Homo sapiens: one gene and its partners. The protein of the gene in region 3 purifies or fractionates together with the protein of the main gene of each other region. This does not show direct contact. Each region holds a gene or a part of one and is shown on either strand. Other genes may lie near its edges.

The links.
Region 1: the proteins of SLC16A7 (region 3) and CAND2 purify together in Homo sapiens (affinity purification with mass spectrometry; one large-scale study listed by BioGRID and IntAct). This does not show direct contact.
Region 2: the proteins of SLC16A7 (region 3) and TEX2 purify together in Homo sapiens (affinity purification with mass spectrometry; one large-scale study listed by BioGRID and IntAct). This does not show direct contact.

The regions. Positions count from the first base shown.
Region 1 is NC_000003.12:12,799,609-12,803,261, forward strand, and holds part of CAND2 (cullin-associated NEDD8-dissociated protein 2), read left to right. Parts: intron 1-3,653.
Region 2 is NC_000017.11:64,214,609-64,218,261, forward strand, and holds part of TEX2 (testis-expressed protein 2), read right to left. Parts: intron 1-3,653. UniProt on the Homo sapiens protein: During endoplasmic reticulum (ER) stress or when cellular ceramide levels increase, may induce contacts between the ER and medial-Golgi complex to facilitate non-vesicular transport of ceramides from the ER to the Golgi complex where they are converted to complex sphingolipids, preventing toxic ceramide accumulation.
Region 3 is NC_000012.12:59,781,014-59,784,666, forward strand, and holds part of SLC16A7 (monocarboxylate transporter 2), read left to right. Parts: 3' UTR 1-3,653. UniProt on the Homo sapiens protein: Proton-coupled monocarboxylate symporter. Catalyzes the rapid transport across the plasma membrane of monocarboxylates such as L-lactate, pyruvate and ketone bodies, acetoacetate, beta-hydroxybutyrate and acetate.

The DNA of each region.
Region 1 (3,653 bases), on a different chromosome or scaffold from region 3:
CTCCTCCTGCTCTCACCCTCCCTGACAAAGCCCTCTGCAGACCTGTTCTTTGTTGAGCCTGGAGTCCCAGAGATAAACCTGATGAGCCTCTGCCCTCAGTGAGTGTACAGTCCAATGGAGAAGATGCTCTGGTGGCCAGACTTGTATTGCAGTGTGAGAAGTGCTATAAAGGAGGGGTGCAGAGTGCTCTGAAAGGATCTTGTCCAGGGAACCATTGTGCTTAGGGGCTGTGGATGCAGGGGTAGGGCAGGGAGGTCAGTCATCCTTGAGCTGGGACATTTGAGCTGGGCTCTTGATGGGTGAATAGGAGGAGCTCAACAGATGAAGAAGAAGAGCGGGGATAGAAGGCCTATCTTGGGCAAAGAGGCACATCGCCTGGGTTGCCAGGCTGAGCTGGGCCCCCATGGACTGCAGCAGAAACACAACTTGGAGACCCTGGGTGCCATCTCAGAATGTCCCCTCAGCTGAGCAGACGTAGGGGTGCATGTGCTCACCTCAGGCCTTGGCCTGGCTCAAATCCAAACCTCCTCCTTCACTTTACCTTTGCCCAGAGGTGGGCACAGTCAGTCCTGCCATCCTGCCCATGCTGCCAGCCCAGCCTCCTTCTCTCTCCTAGCAACTTGTGGCTAATCTACCTGTTAAAAATAAATAGGTCATCGACCAGTCCACCCCTGGTAACAGGGCACTGTGGGCTGCAGTGACATCTAGGAGCAGGTCTGAGTCTGCACAGATGAGAGCCAGAATCCCAACTGTGATAGATTTTGCCACAGGAGGCGGGGGTCAGGGCTCTTGGTTGATTTGCTCAACCATGCTGGAAAGCAGGGCCAGCGTGGGGTGGTAGAGTGGCCCAGCAGGGTCAGTAAAAGCTGGAGGCTTTCTCCGAGGCAGCCTTACAGTATCTCCTCGCTGCTCTGTCCTGTTTTCTCCTGAGACTCCGCTCTCACATGCCTGCAGGAGCCAGTCAGTGGGTGAAGTGGGCCTAGTGGGGACCAGGTGAACTGGGGAGAGGGCAGCCACAACCTGATTCTAATCAGGTATTGTCACCAGGGATTGTAGGCCCCGTTGTACTCAAATATTCTGTTTTCAAGATAATCTGGAAGTCAGTGTTTTGTTTTTGTTTTTGTTTTTGTTTTTTTTTGAGTCTCACTCTGTCACCCAGGCTGGAGTGCTGTGGCACGATCTTGGCTCACTGCAACCTCTGCCTCCTGGGTTCAAGTGATTCTCCTGCCTCAGCCTCCCAAGTAGCTGGGACTACAGGTGTGCACCACCATACCTGGCTAATTTTCGTATTTTTAGTAGAGATGGGGTTTCCCCCTGTTGGCCAGGCTGGTCTCTAATTTCTGACCTTAAGTGATCTGGCGACCTTGGCCTCCCAAAGTGCTGGGATTGCAGGCGTGAGCTGCTGCGCCCAGCCTGGAAATCAGTATTTTTTTTTTTTTTTTTTTTTGAGATGGATACTCGCACTGTTACCCAGGCTGGAGTGCAGTGGCACGATCTCAGCTCACTGCAACCTTTGCCTCCCGGGTTCAAGTGATTCACCTGCCTCAGCCTTCCCAGTAGCTAGGATTACAGGTGTCTGCCACCGCGCTCGGCTAATTTTTGTATTTTTAATAGAGACAGGGTTTCACCATATTGGCCAGGCTGATCTAGAACTTTTGACCTCAGGTGATCCACCCGCCTCAGCCTCCTAAAGTGCTGGGATTACAGGCGTGAGCCGCCATGCCAGGCCAAAGTCAGTATTTTTGTGTCAACTTTCCCAATGTTCAAATGTTGACAAGTAATTTAAATTTTTGAAAACATGTTTGCAAGCTGGACACAGCTGAGGGCTACTAGTTTCAGACCTCTGCTCCTACCCTCTTAATTTTGGCGGGAATGGTGCCCAATTCCCGCACCATTCCTCGACTTGGAAAGTTGGCCCCAGCCTCAACTTTCCGTGGCTTCCAGCTTAGACTCCCACTGCAGTTTCAAATGCCTGGGACAGCATCAGGCTTTTGGTGTCAGGCCCCATGAATCCCTCACCTCCGGGTGGGTAGCCCTTGCCTCTGGTGCCCACCCTAGGTCAGTGAGCCAGTCAGCTATTGGCGCTGGTCTCCAAAATATGCCCATGCCCATCAGCATGGCGTGGGGCAGTGGTTTTCAAAGTGTGGTCCCTGACCCTCAGTGTCCTCCAGGAATTTGTTAGAAATGTGGATTCCTGGGCCCCAACTCAGACCTGCTGATTCAGAAACTCTGGGAATGGGGACTAGTATTATTTAACAAGCGCTGCTGGTGATTCTGATGCTGGCTATAGCTGGAGATCCACTGCTCTAAGGGCAGGGACTGAGCCGGTTCTCTGAGATGGGAGTGGACAGGGCTCGCCCTCCTCCATCTGTTTGGCAGACAGGCCTCTAGCTCTGACTTGGACACAAGGTGTCTGTTCAACCTTCTGGTATCCCTTGGCTGGGCGCGGTGGCTCACGCCTGTAATCCTAGCATTTTGGGAGGCCGAGGTGGGCGGATCACGAGGTCAGGAGATCAAGACCATCCTGGCTAACACAGTGAAACCCCACCTCTACTAAAAATACAAAAAATTAGCCGGGCGTGGTGGCCGGCACCTGTAGTCCCAGCTACTCGGGAGGCTGAGGCAGGAGAATGGTGTGAACCCAGGAGATGGAGCTTGCAGTGAGCTGAGATCGTGCCACTGCACTCCAGCCTGGGCAACAGAGCAAGACTCCATCTCAAAAAACAAAACAAAACAAAACAACCTTCTGGCATCACTTTCTCAGCTGTTGTGAGATGTGGATGATGTCCTGTGCCATTATAATAATGGCAGTGCCATTTACTGAGCACACACCATGTGCACTTAAAACACCATGAGGCAGGTACTAGTCTCATCCCTGTTTTCAGACAGGTAAACTAAGGCTTGGAGAGGTGAAATGACTTGCCCAAGTTCACACTCATAAATGGCTGAGGCGGGGGCCACCGATCCTGAAACATTATGCATTTAGCCAGCATGCTGAGCCGTTGCTAGTCTGCCACTATGTGGCAGTTGGTGTCACACATATGTGGGTCTCCTTGTAGCCCAACCATGCCCACTGCCCAAATAATCCACCATCATGTGGCACTTAACGACGGGGAAACATTCTGAGAAGTGCATCCTTAGGCGATTTTGTCCTTGTGTGAACCTCATAGAGTGTGCCTACACAACCTAGATGGTAGAGCCTACTACACTCCCAGGCTATATGGTGTGGCCTGTTGCTCCTAGGCTACAAACCTGTATTGAGTACTGTAGGCAGTTGTAACAGAGTGGTATTTGTGTGTCTAAACATAGAAAAGGTACAGTAAAAATAAGGTAGAAAAGATTAAAATGGCATGCCTGTATAGGGCAGCTCCATTAAAATCTTTTTTTTTTTTTTTTTTGGAGACGGAGTCTCTCTCTGTCGCCCAGGCTGGAGTACAGTGGCATGATCTTGGCTCACTGCAAGCTCCGCCTCCCGGGTTCACGCCATTCTCCTGCTTCAGCCTCCCAAGTAGCTGGGACTACAGGCGCCCGCCACCACACCTGGCTAATTTTTTGTATTTTGTTTAGTAGAGACTGGGTTTCACCATGTTAGCCAGGATGGTCTTGATCTCCTGACCTCGTGATCTGCCCACCTCGGCCTCCCAAAGTGCTGG
Region 2 (3,653 bases), on a different chromosome or scaffold from region 3:
AGGATAAAATGTAGCATCCTGTTGAGTTTGAGGATCTTGGAACAAAAATTTCACTAGGAGTCTTGTAGCTGTAACAAGCTAACCCAGGAGGGGTATTGCGTTCACTGCAATTTTCACAGCAATCCTAACAATTATTTGGCCTGCATCTCCCAACTTCCTGCTATTGCAAGTAAGTAGCAAAGTATCCAAATGTGGAAATCTGTAAACTAATTGCCATGGTCTGTTGGCCTCCTCAAATGGTAGGTACCATAAGACCAGAGTATTTAGGCAGCCATGAAGACATGAGGCAGCCATGAGGACATGGCCACGTTCTGAGGCATCAGGATAAAGCAAACATATTTTAAACTGAATGCAAGATTCATGTGTCAGGAAAATGAAGTATCACTGCTGTAACCCACCACCAACCAAGAACTCTACCAAGGACTGTGGTGAGAGATGTGGAAGCTATGCTTTCTGCCCTTCTGGAGCTTAATAGCTGATTGCTTCTTTCTGGAGCTTAGCTGGAACGAAGTCAGAAGCCTGAAAAGCTGGGCAGCAAAACAAGATGCCACGCCCACCTTGTGACATGGTACAGTCATCTCTCTTTATTCACTCATGGCCCATTTACTGGGCACTAGCCCTACTATGTAAAAATTAAGACCACACCTGGACAGAGACCATGTAAAAAGAGCCAAGACACAGGGCACGCTTCAGAAGTTCTGAGGAGGATGACACCAGTGTGGGAGGTGGGACATCCAACGGGTCTTTGGAACTGATGGGTGAGTTGTAGTGGGATGAGCATGATTAGGCAGAGGGAAGGGACAAGGGCATAAAGATGGCAATGGGCATGGTGTGTGCAGCCACCTGGCTCTATTCTGTTTCCAGGACAGAGGGTGAGTGTGGGGAGCAGTGGGAGGCCATTGAGACAAAAGGGGCATCGTGGGGCAGTGGAAAGAGCACCCAGCTTGGGCCCAGGACATAGGGCTTCTAGTACTTGTCTTTCTACAGCTGACTCTGTGGGACTTTGAACAAGCCAGGGCCTCTCGATGTCTCAGTATCTTGGTCTGTAAAATGGAGGTAGATCCACAGTCCTTTCCAAATTTAAAACGCTACACGTTTATGTTTACAGGTGACTGTATCCAACCCAACACAATACGCTTACAAGTAATCTACCACAATCGACATTATGTGGCTTGCTTATTTCTTTAATTTGAAGAGCTCCTAATTTAAGCCTTCTGCTAAATATTCAGGTTCAAAATGCTGGCAACTGATATTACCAACAAGAGAAATCATAAAATGGGTAGGGGAATAAGGGGGTTTGGGAAACAGTGATCCTGGATCACTAGAAGGAGGAAATATTCCAAGGATGACAAGAATTACATTCAAGGGCCCAGCTGCAACATGGACTCAAGCTGAAACTACACAATTTCAGTATCAAATATTTGAGAGAAGTTACCGTAAAAACTTTCACACACAGTTCTGTCCAGGCTCATTTGTGACCCTCAGGCTTTCCTATCCTGAATCCAGGAAAAGGGAATGATCTCTATCCACCAACAAAGCAATTTAAATCCAGGAACTGGCAGCAGCCAGAAAAACACAGCCTCGGGTCCAGGACAATCCTTCCCTGTTATCTTAAGCTAAGGAATTTGTAGGCTTAGTAAGAAGAAAAATATCAGAAGCAACATATGTTTTTCATTTAACTATCACCTAGTTTTATAAGGGCAATTTAAAAAGAAAATTATAGAGGTAATTTAAAAAGAAAAGTTTGGTATTTGATAATTCTCAGTGGGCTGAAAAACTCATTTAAGTTGCTTTCATAACATAAAAGGATGATATGTAAGGCTCTGCTGTTCTGAGGCTGCTTCACCCACAGCGGTGGCTATAAATGAAGGTAACTGTGGGCACAAGTCCAAGTACAAAGTGCATGATTTTGAGGTTGAACAGAGTGAATCGGTCCTTCAGGAACCAAGGCAAGAGTGGAGAGGCCCGTCTGCAGTTGAGGATAAGAAGGCCTGGGAATCTAAGGGCAAAGTTAGGCCCAGCCTAGCGCCAAAGGGTGAAAACAGCAATGCGTTCAGAAGCCTGCGGTCTCAGCAGTCAGGCCAGGCCCCAGGGAACAAAAAGCTGGCACCTGCTCAGGAAGCAGAGTTATTTTTCGTGTGGAGGTCACCAGGACCCTGCTTGCCTAATCCTCCACACACTTGGGCCCCCTGACTGGCCAGGTAAAGCGACCTCTGATCAGACTGGGCGGACAGAGCTGAAGGTGGGCCCCAGGGAGAGCTGGGTGTCAGGTGGCCAGATGGGGGCAGGCTCTGGCTCACTGTTGTTATTGTCCTCCAGGGCTCACTCAGACAGTGGCCTCAGAGGTTCACAGTAAATGCCCCCAAACCCACACTAACCAAAGCCTGGTTCCACTTCTCTAGATTTTTACTAAAATAAGCCACACGAGGCCGGAGCATCACTACTGCTCTTTAAATACAAGAAAATGTCCAGGCTTCTGTTTGCTCATCTGCAAAATGAGGGGATTAGGCTAGATAAACAAAGGCTGCTTCCAGGCCCCAAACTGCTGGGTAATTGAGTGTGCTAGAACCAGAGACCATGGTTTGGGCTCTAGACAACCTATCAAGTGGTCACTGCCTCTGCCTCCTCCTGGGGACCACTTCAAGTTCCCTCTTCTCTCTGTCCTCCCAGTGGCTGGCTGCTAAGGCCAACTGAGCCGACCCTCCCACAGCCACAGCCATGCAGGACAGCCAAGGCCAAGAGGAAGGACCTGACTGACACCCAGGAAGACTACATGGTTTGTCCAAGGGCACAGCACTGACAACATGGGCTTCCTGACACTGAGGCCCGATGCCCGGCAGGGTGCCTTTTCAAACATGCCACACACGCTCTTTATTCCTGCTTTGTCCCAGCTTTTGTACCTGCCCTCTGTGCTCCGTCATGGACAGCTCACTTACAAGCTAAGACCTCAGTTCTCAACCAGCAGCATGTGACTGGCCGCACTGAGAAATGAAAGGTCTCATTATCCATCTGACAATCTGGTACCATATAAAATGGCTAGCCTCCTGCCCTCTACTCCTGAAACTCAATTATACCCAGGCTCAAAAAAAGAGACAAGCTTCTCTCAAGCCCTCAGGAACTGAAAGGCCAAAAAAGAAAGCTTCCTTCTCAACAGTCTCTTTTTCCCATAGTTCCAGCAGACTACAAAGCCCTTGGGTTTTAACACTGACCCCCCAAGCCTTGTGATGGGAAGGAGAGCTGTAGCTCATGTTGTCGCCAGGCTCCCATAGGTATGATTTCGTGCTGGAGAGGTGTTTAAGCAAAAGTCTGACATGATCAAAGTGGTACACAAAATTAATCACGTCCCGTCCCAGAATGGATGAGGGTGGCAGAGGCAACATGGAAAAACAGGTCTGGAGTCTGGTTGTCTGGGAAGGCAGGCTCCATTATCAGGCTCACAATTCTGCTGAACACAACTAACAATGAATACATTGAAAAAAAATTTCTGAATGGCTGGGCACGGTGGCTCACACCTGTAATCCCAGCTACTAGGGAGGCTGAGGCACAAGAATTGCTTGAATCCATGAAACAGAGGTTTCAGTGAGCTGAGACTGTGGCACTGCACCCCAGCGTGGGTGACAAAGTGAGACTCTGACTCCAGAAAAAAAAAAGTC
Region 3 (3,653 bases):
GGCACTGTATGACTTGCAATCGTAGGTATAGTTTATAACCTGATAGCAAAAAACTTGAAATATTGCAGCCCAGTTTAATTCAGCACTTTCCCATTTTCATAACTATGTGAAAACATCTGGGAATTTGAATCACTCCTGAATACAGAGGCATATTCTTTTTAAACTATAAATACCATTTTGAGTGAGAAAGTACTTTTAAACAAGAAAGAAATTGTACATTATGACTAAAGTTATAAATACAATATTTATATCTATAAATCTGAAGTTTAACATGATTAATTTAAAAAGTATTTAGTGCTTGACAAAGTAGTGTCACTCTTAAGATGTCAAAGGGAATTAGCCATTTTTTTTATTGTAATAAAGGCAGGTGCTATTTTTTTCTGGTGAGATTGCACCTGGATACCAGGCTTTTGTAATAGTTAACATTAAACATTTGATTCATAAAGTTAATTCACTGCTTAAGCATGTGGCTCATATTTAGGAAGCTATATAAAATTCAGTTTTTCATTTAACATTTGCTCTTTTGCATATGAAGAGATATTTGTATTTTTCAAATGTTAAGTAAAACAAGATGTGCCAATATCATAGGTAAATAAATTAGGGAAAATGTGGGACTTTATGGCTGTTTTTAATTTAGTTTCACCCGATCTTGATTCTTGAATTAGCTATGTTTATATTTTTAGTTCTTTTTTATTCAACTCAGATTTGTCAAGAAATGTAACCTCTAAATTGTGTAGTACCTCTCCAATCATAAATTTTCAAAAAAAAATTCTACTTTCCAAAAAGTGTCTTGAATTCTCTGAAAAGGCACATTAAACTAATATGAACATCAGATACCAGGGGGAAATAAATGGCAAAGTAATAATCATGAGGTTTTAGGTCAAAGACTACATTATATATATTTTTTATTACCTTCTAGTAGAGACATCCTCCTGGGTGCATTTCAGTGGCCTTCTCCAGGGAGGAGGTTTATTTACTTACTGATGAGTTTCTCGTCACGTCAAAACCAGTTCACATTTGTCTGGCTGCTCTTTGGTTGTCTTCATTCGTTATTTATTTCTAACACTGTATTAAATTGTTAGAAAAGAAAGTAAAACTTGCACATTCAAAGCACATGATTTGTACAGTCACACCTGGCAGTAGCACTGCACAGTTACAAATATGCACACACGTTAACTGCTATGCATAAATATTGACAGTTAAACCAGAACACAATTGAAACAGTGACATAAATACCTACAGGATTCAGAATTGTTCCAGGGTAATATAAATTATTCTACTTGTTCACTCTCCCCACCCTCTTGAACTTGTTAGAAGATTTGCTGCTTTAGCAGAATCTTTCCAAGATTGAGAAAAGTGTATCAACCTAGGATTTTCATTACTATATAGTCACATAAATGGAGGAGGAGATATATTTGGCTTCTGCCTCTGCAACAATTAGTATGAACATATTTCTTTCTCTAGGGAATAATAGGTTTTAAACATTTGAGATATCATGAAGCAAAGTCAGGGTATACCACTACAATCCCCACTAATCTCTATTCCCACATTATGAAATTGTACAGAAGAAAGGGTGTCATTAAATCAAGGTATCCAGATAATTCATGGCTACTTTAACTATTTTTTCATTCGTGTTAACTGAGCCCCCCATATTTTTTACTACTTAACCTTAAATATGCCATCACTAATTTATGAATAGAACATTGTGTTTGCACTTTTCCTGACCTATCCTCACCCCCTTTCCTGATCCTTTTTGCATTCACCTAGCACACCTTAAGAGACAAAAAATCAGGTTTTAGTGTATTTCACATTGGAAGACATGATGTTTTCTCAGTATAAATCTACAGGACTCATAAACAATCACTTTTTTGGTGCCAAGTTTCAACCCTTTAGCTCATGGACTCATTGGCCTCAGCCTAATACTAAGAAACAAGTAAAATAATTAGATTTTCTATGTTTGAATGTGCACTTTAAAAAATCTAGATAATTTATACTCATTCTTTTCTGGCTGTACAACATGACAATCAAGAATATAGAAAAGAAGACTAAAAGATATATGATATAAATGTAAGTTTTTATGTAGATGACATAAATATGAAGAGATATTCTTGGTCAGTTGGTTGAAACATTTTTTATCTAAAACACCTTTAAAAAATCCCTTTCATATGTAGAATGTGGAAGGCTTTTAATAAAACAAAAATTATTATTTTTAGGCTTAATTTAATAGGGAGATTGGATGCATAGTGGAAAGGGAACTAATATTTATATGTTATGCATTTTGCTTATGTAATGCCTTTCAATATGAAAACCAAAACCATGGCAGAATTATTACTAGCTTGATATGACAGATGAGTGAAAACAAAAAACAAGCTCAGCAGACTACCCAAAGTTAAAAGGTAGTATGAACCAAAATTAAAACTCAGGTTTACGTAACCAGAAAGATCCCCGAGGTGTTCACTACCGTGCTGCCTCCCAATAGAGGCCAGAGAAGCAAAGGAAGATAAAATATAGGTACAAAAAAGATACATCCTATATAGTAAAACAATTAGGTTTAACTGTAACTTGTATTATGATTTATTTAGTGTTTATTAGAGAACTGCATTTGCTAGAACCTGAATATGTAATTTCTTTCTTTCTTTCTTTTTTTTTTTTTTTGAGACTGAGTCTCGTTCTTGTCGCCCAGGCTGGCGTGCAGTGGCACAATCTCGGCTTACTACAACCTCTGCCTCCCAGGTTCAAGCAATTCTCCTGCCTCAGCCTCCCGAGTAACTGGAATTACAGGCATGTGCCACCATGCCCGGCTAATTTTGTGGCTTTTTTTGTTTTGTTTTGTTTTGTTTTGTTTTAGTAGAGATGGGGTTTCTCCTTGTTGGTCAGGCTGGTCTTGAACTCTGACCTCAGGTGATTCACTCGCCTCTGCCTCCCAAAGTGCTGGGATTACAGGCGTGAGCCACTGCGCCCAGCCTTGAATATGTAATTTCTGATTGCCTGCTTTTCTCCCCAATGCAAATTATCTCAAATAATGATAATTATTACATATAGACATAATTACTTCAATATGACTCTTTTTCTCATAAAAATAATGACATATTTGAGTCAGGCATAATACATTTTTTCTGAGGTTGGAGTTAGCAGGAAAATGTTATCTTTTATGAATAAATAATTCCCAGATTGGTTGCTACATATCATGATTCAAAAAGTAAAATAATTACCTGGATGTGGTGATGTGCACCTGTAGTCCCAGCTACTCGGGAGGCTGAGACGAGAGGGTCATTTGAGCCCAGGAAGTTGAGGCTTCAGTGAGCTATAATGGCCCCACTTGCAGTCCAGCCTAGGCAATAGAGTGAGAATCTGTCTCTATTAAAAAAAAAATAAAATGTTCTTACTAGAAAACATTATATTTAGAATTTTAGTGATTATTCCATTTATAATATTATCCGTAGCTACCAAAAAAAAGATTATAAGATACAAATGATTTGGTTTACCCATACAGTTACATATTAATTTTCATCATTTAATACAACTTACCCTACACCGTAGCTTATTTTTCAAGTTTCTCTGAACATCTTTGTTGTCATTCACCTCTTTGTCTATTTGTTCTGTAGAGAAAACAAGTGTCATTGCTTTTGTCTTCTCCATCTAGACTTTTGCAG